3 linked regions of the Homo sapiens genome follow. The protein of the gene in region 2 purifies or fractionates together with the protein of the main gene of each other region. This does not show direct contact. Each region holds a gene or a part of one and is shown on either strand. Other genes may lie near its edges.

The links.
Region 1: the proteins of P3H2 (region 2) and LAIR2 purify together in Homo sapiens (co-immunoprecipitation; one large-scale study listed by IntAct). This does not show direct contact.
Region 3: the proteins of P3H2 (region 2) and COL10A1 purify together in Homo sapiens (co-immunoprecipitation; one large-scale study listed by IntAct). This does not show direct contact.

What each region holds. Positions count from the first base shown.
Region 1 is NC_000019.10:54,501,571-54,505,753, forward strand, and holds the start of LAIR2 (leukocyte-associated immunoglobulin-like receptor 2 isoform a precursor), read left to right. Parts: upstream 1-1,260; 5' UTR 1,261-1,348; coding exon 1,349-1,382; intron 1,383-2,129; coding exon 2,130-2,165; intron 2,166-4,183.
Region 2 is NC_000003.12:189,984,868-189,988,527, forward strand, and holds part of P3H2 (prolyl 3-hydroxylase 2 isoform a precursor), read right to left. Parts: intron 2,803-3,660; coding exon 2,660-2,802; intron 2,011-2,659; coding exon 1,921-2,010; intron 1-1,920. UniProt on the Homo sapiens protein: Prolyl 3-hydroxylase that catalyzes the post-translational formation of 3-hydroxyproline on collagens. Contributes to proline 3-hydroxylation of collagen COL4A1 and COL1A1 in tendons, the eye sclera and in the eye lens capsule.
Region 3 is NC_000006.12:116,118,249-116,120,770, reverse strand, and holds the end of COL10A1 (collagen alpha-1(X) chain precursor), read left to right. Parts: coding exon 1-698; 3' UTR 699-1,862; downstream 1,863-2,522.

The sequences.
Region 1 (4,183 bases), on a different chromosome or scaffold from region 2:
CCACACACACATACACACACACACACACACACACAAATTGTTAATTGTATATGTATAATTATAATAGTTTATATATATTAACAATTATATATAAACTTGCATATATATAGTATTTGCTGTATTATTATATATAAACAATTATATATGTAATGACTGTATAAAATAGATAAACAATTTTAACTAATAATATTATATTAATTATATTATTATTAGATGTAATAATTATAATTATTTATATATAATATTTATTATTATGTATCATTGTTAGAACACTTAACATGAGCTCTGTCCTCTTAACAAATTTCAAGTGAACAAGACGTTATTGCTGACGATGGGTCGTATGTGGTGCAGCAGATCTCTAGGCCTGTTTGTTAATAACTCCCCATTTCCCCCTCCTCCCAGCCCCCGTAACCACCATTCCCTGCTGTGATGTTGTGACTCTGGTGACTTTGCAGATCTCCTGTAAGTGACATCATGCAGTACTTGGTCTCTGCATCTGCGTCGCTTGGCGTGATGTCCTCAGGTTTCGTCTGTGTTGTCGCCCATGGCAGAATTTTCTTCCTTGTTTAAGGCTGAATAGTATTCCCCTGTGTGTGCACCACATTTTCTATATCAATTCTTCTATCAATGGACATTTAGATGATTTTCACGTCTTAGCTATTGCGAATAGTGCTGCAGTGATCAGGGGAGTTCAGACGGCTCTTTGCATACTGAATTTGTTTCTTTTAAATATAGACCCAGAAGTGGCATTGTTGGACCATACGGTAGCTCTATGTTTAGTTTTTTGAGGAACCTCCCCACTGTTCTCTATAGTGAGTGCACAATTTTTCAGCCTCCCAAAGTGCTGGGATCACAGGCGTGAGCCACCGCGCCCGGCGCACTGTAGGATCTTTTTTAATGCATTATATACCTTGCTGAGATTTTAGCAGAGATCACAATATTAAAAACTTGGGGAAGGATTTCTATGACTCTTATTTTAAATACGAGGACATGTCGACTTCTAGTTTTGTAACATCTTGCCCAAGAGCGGTGGTCGTTAACGTGTGGAGTTGGGATGACATCCAAGTCAGTTGGTTGCACGACCTTTATTCTGTCTTGTCCCATAGATTTAGAAAGAGGCTGACACATCGGGTAACTAGTTTAAGGTCATCTGATCATGCGGGTAAGCGACATTTTTCAGAAACCAAGGCCCTCCCTCTCATCTCACTAGTGGGAAGGGTGGAAAGAACAGAACAGAAAGCTCTCCCTCTTGTGTGAGGCAGTTGCTGTGGAAGCCCCACGGGCAGGAGGCCCCCGGCCAGCACATCCTGTCTGCTTGTGTCTGCTGCAGAGTTCTGGGACCGGGGCCATGTCTCCACACCTCACTGCTCTCCTGGGCCTAGGTGAGTCCTGGAGGGAGCGGGAAGGACTGGAAAGGGGGTCGGGAGGTCTGGAAAGTTCCCTGCTCAAGCCTGACTCTAGTCCAGAAGATTCTGGGGAGGAAAGTGTCCTCCTCCCCCCAAGACTGCCCTACTGCTCTCCCTGGGGCCTAAGTCTGATCAGAGACAACCTTGTCCTAAAAACAGGGGCCCGGGTGTGGGGATGAGGTCAGCTTTAAGAAGGGCTGGGGGGCCAGGCGCGGTGCTCACACCTGTAATCCTAGCACTTTGGGAGGCTGAGGCAGGTGGATCACCTGAGGTCAGGAGTTTGAGACCAGCCTGGCCAACGTGGTGAAACTCCATCTCTACTAATACAAAAATTAGCCGGGCATGGTGGCGGGCACCTGTAATCCCAGCTACTCGGGAGGCTGAGGCAGGAGAATTGCTTGAACCCGGGAGGTGGAGGTTGCAGTGAGCTAAGATCGCGCCACTGCACTCTAGCGTGGGCGACAAGAACAAAACTCCGTCTCCAACAACACCAAAAAGAAGGGCTGGGGGAGCAGGAGCCTTTTTGGAAGAGGAGACTTTGGGATTTATCTTGAAACCATTTTGCAGCAAGAAGGATTACATGGAGACAGTGATGTCGAGGAGGGTTGGCTTGGTCGTTATGAAATGCTGAATGCCCCCCAGCTCCGTCAAGCCCCCTTTTGACAGCAGCCCTGTAAGGAGACTGGGCAGTGGGCATTTTTCTCACTGGGGCTTCTCTTCCAGTGCTCTGCCTGGCCCAGACCATCCACACGCAGGAGGGTAAGTCATGCCTTCGTCCCGTCTTCCCAGTCCCCTCTGTCACCCCAAAGGCAGTGCTGGGTGGGAGTGATGTTGATTCTTAGAGGGCCTGGAGAGATCCCTTTAAATATACCCTAGATTGCAAACTATTCCAAATGTAAAATGCATAACCCTCACCCCTTTCTCTCCTTCATTCTCCACCTGTCATGTTTTGCTTTTCTTATTTTCAAAAATCCTATATTTTATTTTATTTTTATTTTTGAGATGGAGTCTCACTCCATCACCCAGGCTAGAATGCAGTGGCATAATCTCGGCTCACTGCAACCTCTGCTCCCAGTTTCAAGCGATTCTCCTGCCTCGGCCTCCTGAGTAGCTGGGATTACAGGCACCCACCACCACCCCTGGCTAATTTTTTTTTTTTTTGTATTTTTAGAAGAGATGGGGTTTCACCATATTGGCCAGGCTGGTCTCGAACTCCTTACCTTATGATCCGCCCGCCTCAGCCTCCCACAGTGCTGGGATTACAGGCATGAGCCACTGTGCCCAGCCAAAAATCTTATTTTTAATCGACAAATAATTGTATATGTTTGTGGGGCACGATGTGATGTTACAACGTATGTAAACATTGTGGAAAGATTAAATAAGGCTAAATAACATATCAATCACATCACATACTTATTGTGATGAGAACATTTAAAACCTACTTTTAGCAATTTTGAAATATATAATAAGTTATTATTAACTATAGTCAGCCTGCTATGCAATAGATCTCAAAAACTTACTCCTCCTGTTTAACCGAAACTTTGTACCATTTGATCAGTGTCTCTCCCAAGCCCCCCATTTCCCGACTTTAATAGCATCATTCTAATCTCTAACTCTGTGAGATGACCTTTTTTGTTTGTTTGTTTGTTTTGGGATGGAGTCTCACTCTGTCACCCAGGCTGGAGTGCAATGGCACAATCTCGGTTCACCGCAAACTCAACTTCTCAAGTTCAAGCGATTCTCCTGCCTCAGCCTCTCGAGTAGCTGGGATTACAGGTGCATGCCACCACGCCCAGCTAATTTTTGTGTTTTTAGTAGAGATGGGGTTTCACCATGTTGGCCAGGCTGGTCTTGAACTCCTGACCTCAGGTGATCCACCCACCTCGGCCACACAAAGTGCTGGGATTACAGGTATGAGCCACTGCACCCGGCCGAGATGAACTTTTTTAGATTCCACATGCGGTATTTGTCTTTCTGTACCCAGCTTATTTCACTTAGCATAATGTCCTCTGGTTCATCCATGCTGTTGTGAATGACAGAATGTCCTTCCTTTTTTAGGGCTGAATAATATTCCATTGCATATATACACCACATTCTCCTCATCCATTCATTTGGTGGTGGTTATATAACTCAGGTTATTTCCAGGTCTTGGCAGCTGTGAGTAGCGCTGCGGTCACCCTGGGAGTGCAGGCATCACCTCCACACACCGATTTCCACAATGAGAATTCAAACCCAACACAACCAAGGCTGAACCCGGCACTTTTCCCCAGACGAGCCCACACTTCACTCGGCAGCTTCTTGGCGGGGAACGTGACAGTCACAAAGGGCAGACTCTGAACACTCATCCTCTTCTCCATCCTCCTGGATGCACCATGTCACCCAGTCCTGGTGATTTCACTCTAAATTTTTCTCATCTTTCCCTCTCTCTTCATCGACTTTTCCTGCATCACCCCCAGGTGACAGCCCTTCTCCCCTCCGTGGCTCCCCGAGGCCGGCCTCAGCCTGTCCATGCCACTGCTGCCTGCTCCCTTCCTGACCCCAGGGACTGGCGATTTGCAAAAGCACAACCATGACCATTGTACTTTCCACAGTTTTTAAATTGCATTCAAAAATTTTCATTTAATATCTCATCGTAAGATGAAGTTTTTTTCTTAGAGCCCTTCCCCTGTTTATCTTCAGATAGAATCAACCCAGGCACCTCTCTTTGTTCTGGACATGCCCATTTTCCCAGCCACATCCTGTCCCTGTGACCTGGGGCTCACTCATCTCTACATTCC
Region 2 (3,660 bases):
GACTTGGAATTTGGTGGCAGAAAAACATTTGAAAGATCATTCAGTTCAACTTCTTTATGTTTGCTGAATAAAACAAGCAAACAAAATTGAGCTTTAGTAATCATCTGTATAGATCATGAAATTAGTAAATAACATATTTTAAGGTCTCTTGGATAACATAATTTTAAAAGAATAATAAGTAAGGCCCGATATAAATATTAATATATTAGAAGGTGTTATATTAGAAATAGTACATTAAAATTAACCCATTTTAAAAAGTGTGCCTATAAAAACACGGCATAAGAAATGAAAAAAGGTTGTAAATGGACATATTATAAATAATTTTATAAATGTATTAACTTGTATATCATTTGAAGAACTTACATAGTAACCAATGGATAAATGAATAAAACCCATGCCCAAGTAATTAAAAGAAGAGGAAAAATAGTTAATATGTGAAAAGGTTTATTCTTGCTGGTCATCAAAAAAATTACAAGTTAAAATGATGTATTATTTCATACATAATATATAAATAATAAAAGTGATTTTCAAATGTTATTTCTTATCGCTGATAAATTTGTGGTAAAATGGTACTTTTATGCATTACTAGGATTCAAATGCCTGTTCAATCTGTTGTGAGCTATGAGACTTTAGAGTAGTCACTAAATCTTCCCACATGAGATAGTGTTAGTATTAAAATAGTGTGCAAATAAATAATTCCAAGAGAATTATTCTCTTAGTAATCATATATAATTATATATAATTATAAATAAATTAATAATAAATAATTTCTAAGAGAATTCTCTTAGAAAAGCAATTTAGTTTCAAGAAGTTTAAAACCTTATATCCTTTGATGACAGAATAATTCCACTCTTAAGAATTTATTTTCAGGACATAATTCAATAGAGAAAAAATGCTTAATACATTATGTATAATTCAAAAATCAGAAATAATTCAAATGTTCAGCAGAAGAGTTCATTTATTTATTGTATGTCAATTCTACCTATCTAAAATTCTAAATTCTACCAACTTTTTAGAGACTAAAATGTAGCTAAAAATACCTTTTAAAGCTATACAAATGTAGAAATTTCTTATGGTATCTTCTTAAAAGAATACAAATCTCTTTATACCATAGTATATGTTTCTGCAAAAGCTATGTCTTCATATAAACAATGATTAGAAGACAACATGGAAAAGCGGAGTGAAGTCAGCATGATGGGTGTGATAGCATTGTGACTGATGATATTTTGAATTCTCTTTAATGTTTAGGTAACATAAAAGCATTAATAGAAAAATTTAAAACACCACATCCGGAATTTAGGAAAATAAAACACTCCCGGGGCAAATGAGTCATACACAAAATACTTTTACCCAATAGATTTGCTTTTGACTTTAGACCTTGTTAATATGGAATGACTGATGTGGAAATCCATTAGTCTTTTAAAGTTCATCAGATGGCCGGGTGCGGCGGCTCAAGCCTGTAATCCCAGCACTTGGGGAGGCTGAGGCGGGCGGATCACCTGAGGTCAGGAGTCCGAGACTAGCCTGACCAACATGGTGAAACCCCATCTCTACTAAAAATACAAAAAAAAATTAGCTGGGCATTGTGGCGTGTGCCTGTAATCCCAGCTACTCGGGAGGCTGAGGCAGGAGAATTGCTTGAATCCAGGAGGCGGAGGTTGCAGTGAGCCGAGATCACGCCACTGCACTCCAGCCTGGGCGACAAGAGCGAGACTCCATCTCAAAATAAATAAATAAATAAATAGATAAAGTTCATCACATATATTGAGTAAATATCTCCCACCCCCAATTTTTACCTCAAGGAGGGCATCGAAATCTTAGCTTTTTGAGGTAAATGGCAAAAATGGAGGCAGGTAATAAAAACATAAAAAGGATTCCACTGAATCATTATTTTAATAAACGTTTCCTCTTTCCTCTTACCGGTTCAGTGTATGAAAACCCCAGACCTTCTGCAGCTGATTTTATCAGCTCAGACTCCAGCTTATGACGTTTCACAAACATTGTTAAATCCTAGAGAAAAAGAAGTAAAGAAAGACATTTTTTATTTAAATAGCAGGTAAGAGATATGATAAATGTTCAGGTGGCAATATTTTCATTAGATAGTCACAAATGAGCTAACAAATATTCAGAACTGCAAGACTTGGCCCCATCTCAACATACTTTCACACGCTAGCATGTATGAATAAAAATGTGCTTCAGGCATAAATAAAGTTTGAAAGAACCGAGTTCAACAACCTTTGCTAAATTGTTAGACATCTTTAAGACCAGTGTCATATTTTTATCAACTCTCCCCCGAACACATGCAGAATCAAGAATTTCTTTTCAGGCCAGGCGCGGTGGCTCACGCCTGTAATCCCAGCACTTTGGGAGGACGAGGCGGGCAGATCACCTGAGGTCGGGAGTTCGAGACCAGCCTGACCAACATGGAGAAACCCCGTCTCTACTAAAAAAAAAATACAAAATTAGCCGGGTGTGGTGGCATGTGCCTGTAATCCCAGCTACTAGGGAGGCTGAGGCAGGAGAATCGCTTGAACCCGGGAGGCGGAGGTTGCGGTGAGCCAAGATTGTGCCATTGCACTCCAGCCTGGGCAACAAGAGCGAAACTCTGTCTTAAAAAAAAAAAAAAAAAAAGAATTTCTTTTCAAAACATTGGTCTCACCTCTCTGGCCTCAATGGATGCCGGGTCAATGCTATCATCCAGCAGACTCTCATAGTAATCCACATTGTCTAGGACATCCTCATCATCTGGATGGCATAGAAGATAGGCTTTGGCACACTCCAGGGCTTTCACATACTCACCAACTGAAAGACAAAGGAGTTGCAGCATTAGAGTCAGCCTAGGTCTGTCCAAAGGATTTTAAAGGGAGGCCATCAACGTGTCTACAAAGGTCAGCATTAAACATGAATAAGAGGGAAGATAAATTGAGGCTCAGCAGAGAAAGCAGAAACAGTCACAGATAAAAGGAAAGACATGATTTCAAGTATTCAAAAGTTATTACCTTTGGTCTGCTTTGGTACTAGTTGTTTTGTGCAAATCGTCAAGTTTCTATCTGAAGATGTTTGTTGACAACTTTTATTATTTAACACATATAAACAGCAGAATTCTATGAGTTAATTCTGATTTTTGTACCGAGTTTGGGTTAAGTAAACATCCTGAAGGTGATCTTTGCAACAGTAATGTACCATTTTATATATAATGTATGAGTAACATAAGTGCTTTTAAAATGTTATTTTTCATTGCTGCAGTTTGTGGTAAACTGGTACTTCAATGCAAAGTCCTTCATAGAGTCCCAGATGTTCTGGAGGAAGCCCCTTAAATCCTTCACTATACAATTATAGCACATCCTACAGTAGCAAACTACTAAAAGGAACTAACAAGGATGTTTCCAATATAAACTTTTCATTATAGAAATATTTAGCTATTACAAGGGAAATTTTAAATGTCTGTATGCCTTGTTTTCAAATAGTTCACAACATTGTATTTCTTCTAATGGAAATTTACAATATACGTATGTGTGTATATATATGTGTGTGTGTGCATGTATGTGTGTATAATAAATACATACACACACACACACACATATATATATACTCTGAGATGACTCTGATTTTTAAAAGGAATGATAAAAATTAAGCAACTCTCTCATCTTTGATTCACTG
Region 3 (2,522 bases), on a different chromosome or scaffold from region 2:
GTACTAGAGGCCCTATTGGGCCACCAGGCATTCCAGGATTCCCTGGGTCTAAAGGGGATCCAGGAAGTCCCGGTCCTCCTGGCCCAGCTGGCATAGCAACTAAGGGCCTCAATGGACCCACCGGGCCACCAGGGCCTCCAGGTCCAAGAGGCCACTCTGGAGAGCCTGGTCTTCCAGGGCCCCCTGGGCCTCCAGGCCCACCAGGTCAAGCAGTCATGCCTGAGGGTTTTATAAAGGCAGGCCAAAGGCCCAGTCTTTCTGGGACCCCTCTTGTTAGTGCCAACCAGGGGGTAACAGGAATGCCTGTGTCTGCTTTTACTGTTATTCTCTCCAAAGCTTACCCAGCAATAGGAACTCCCATACCATTTGATAAAATTTTGTATAACAGGCAACAGCATTATGACCCAAGGACTGGAATCTTTACTTGTCAGATACCAGGAATATACTATTTTTCATACCACGTGCATGTGAAAGGGACTCATGTTTGGGTAGGCCTGTATAAGAATGGCACCCCTGTAATGTACACCTATGATGAATACACCAAAGGCTACCTGGATCAGGCTTCAGGGAGTGCCATCATCGATCTCACAGAAAATGACCAGGTGTGGCTCCAGCTTCCCAATGCCGAGTCAAATGGCCTATACTCCTCTGAGTATGTCCACTCCTCTTTCTCAGGATTCCTAGTGGCTCCAATGTGAGTACACACAGAGCTAATCTAAATCTTGTGCTAGAAAAAGCATTCTCTAACTCTACCCCACCCTACAAAATGCATATGGAGGTAGGCTGAAAAGAATGTAATTTTTATTTTCTGAAATACAGATTTGAGCTATCAGACCAACAAACCTTCCCCCTGAAAAGTGAGCAGCAACGTAAAAACGTATGTGAAGCCTCTCTTGAATTTCTAGTTAGCAATCTTAAGGCTCTTTAAGGTTTTCTCCAATATTAAAAAATATCACCAAAGAAGTCCTGCTATGTTAAAAACAAACAACAAAAAACAAACAACAAAAAAAAAATTAAAAAAAAAAACAGAAATAGAGCTCTAAGTTATGTGAAATTTGATTTGAGAAACTCGGCATTTCCTTTTTAAAAAAGCCTGTTTCTAACTATGAATATGAGAACTTCTAGGAAACATCCAGGAGGTATCATATAACTTTGTAGAACTTAAATACTTGAATATTCAAATTTAAAAGACACTGTATCCCCTAAAATATTTCTGATGGTGCACTACTCTGAGGCCTGTATGGCCCCTTTCATCAATATCTATTCAAATATACAGGTGCATATATACTTGTTAAAGCTCTTATATAAAAAAGCCCCAAAATATTGAAGTTCATCTGAAATGCAAGGTGCTTTCATCAATGAACCTTTTCAAACTTTTCTATGATTGCAGAGAAGCTTTTTATATACCCAGCATAACTTGGAAACAGGTATCTGACCTATTCTTATTTAGTTAACACAAGTGTGATTAATTTGATTTCTTTAATTCCTTATTGAATCTTATGTGATATGATTTTCTGGATTTACAGAACATTAGCACATGTACCTTGTGCCTCCCATTCAAGTGAAGTTATAATTTACACTGAGGGTTTCAAAATTCGACTAGAAGTGGAGATATATTATTTATTTATGCACTGTACTGTATTTTTATATTGCTGTTTAAAACTTTTAAGCTGTGCCTCACTTATTAAAGCACAAAATGTTTTACCTACTCCTTATTTACGACGCAATAAAATAACATCAATAGATTTTTAGGCTGAATTAATTTGAAAGCAGCAATTTGCTGTTCTCAACCATTCTTTCAAGGCTTTTCATTGTTCAAAGTTAATAAAAAAGTAGGACAATAAAGTGATGGGTGGCTTTTACAGTTGTCATGGATATGTCCCTATATTGGTGATGCATCTTTATTCCCACAGACCCAACCACTCATTGTTGACTGTGAAGAGGTACCCACAAAACCACATGCAATCTGAGTCAGGGTCAAGGGCTGATGACTAGGGATAGAAAAATGACAAAATCACCCCAAAGTTGTAATTTTCTCCTGGGAGGGAAAGAAGCAGGTGACAGAGAAATATGCAGTTTGAACAAATATTCTGCAGTTACTATTTATTGTCTTGACATGTTTTTGGTTATAATATTTAAAATTGTTTTGATGGCTTGAATTACATTTTAAAAAGGCAAGCAATTTTTTTGTCAATCACAAGGCAACATTTTTTCCAAGCTGAAAAATACTACTCTTAAGAATCCATCATCCTATTAGTTTAATCAGGACAATGTGGCTCAAGTCACTGAGGTAACATACTATAAAGGCATCTATTTATTCCTTAGAAGCAATCTTGTGTAATCCAAGCAAAGCTGTGATTGGAAAGGTAAAACTCTGGGCTCAAGATTGGTGATATCTCTGCCCTCACTCTGGGTCAGCCAGTTTTGTTCCTTAAGCAACAAGAACAAAATTTCTGCCGGCAGACATTTTGCCCACCTGTCTATAACTACTACACTAATGGTTACAAGTCACCAACCCTTAT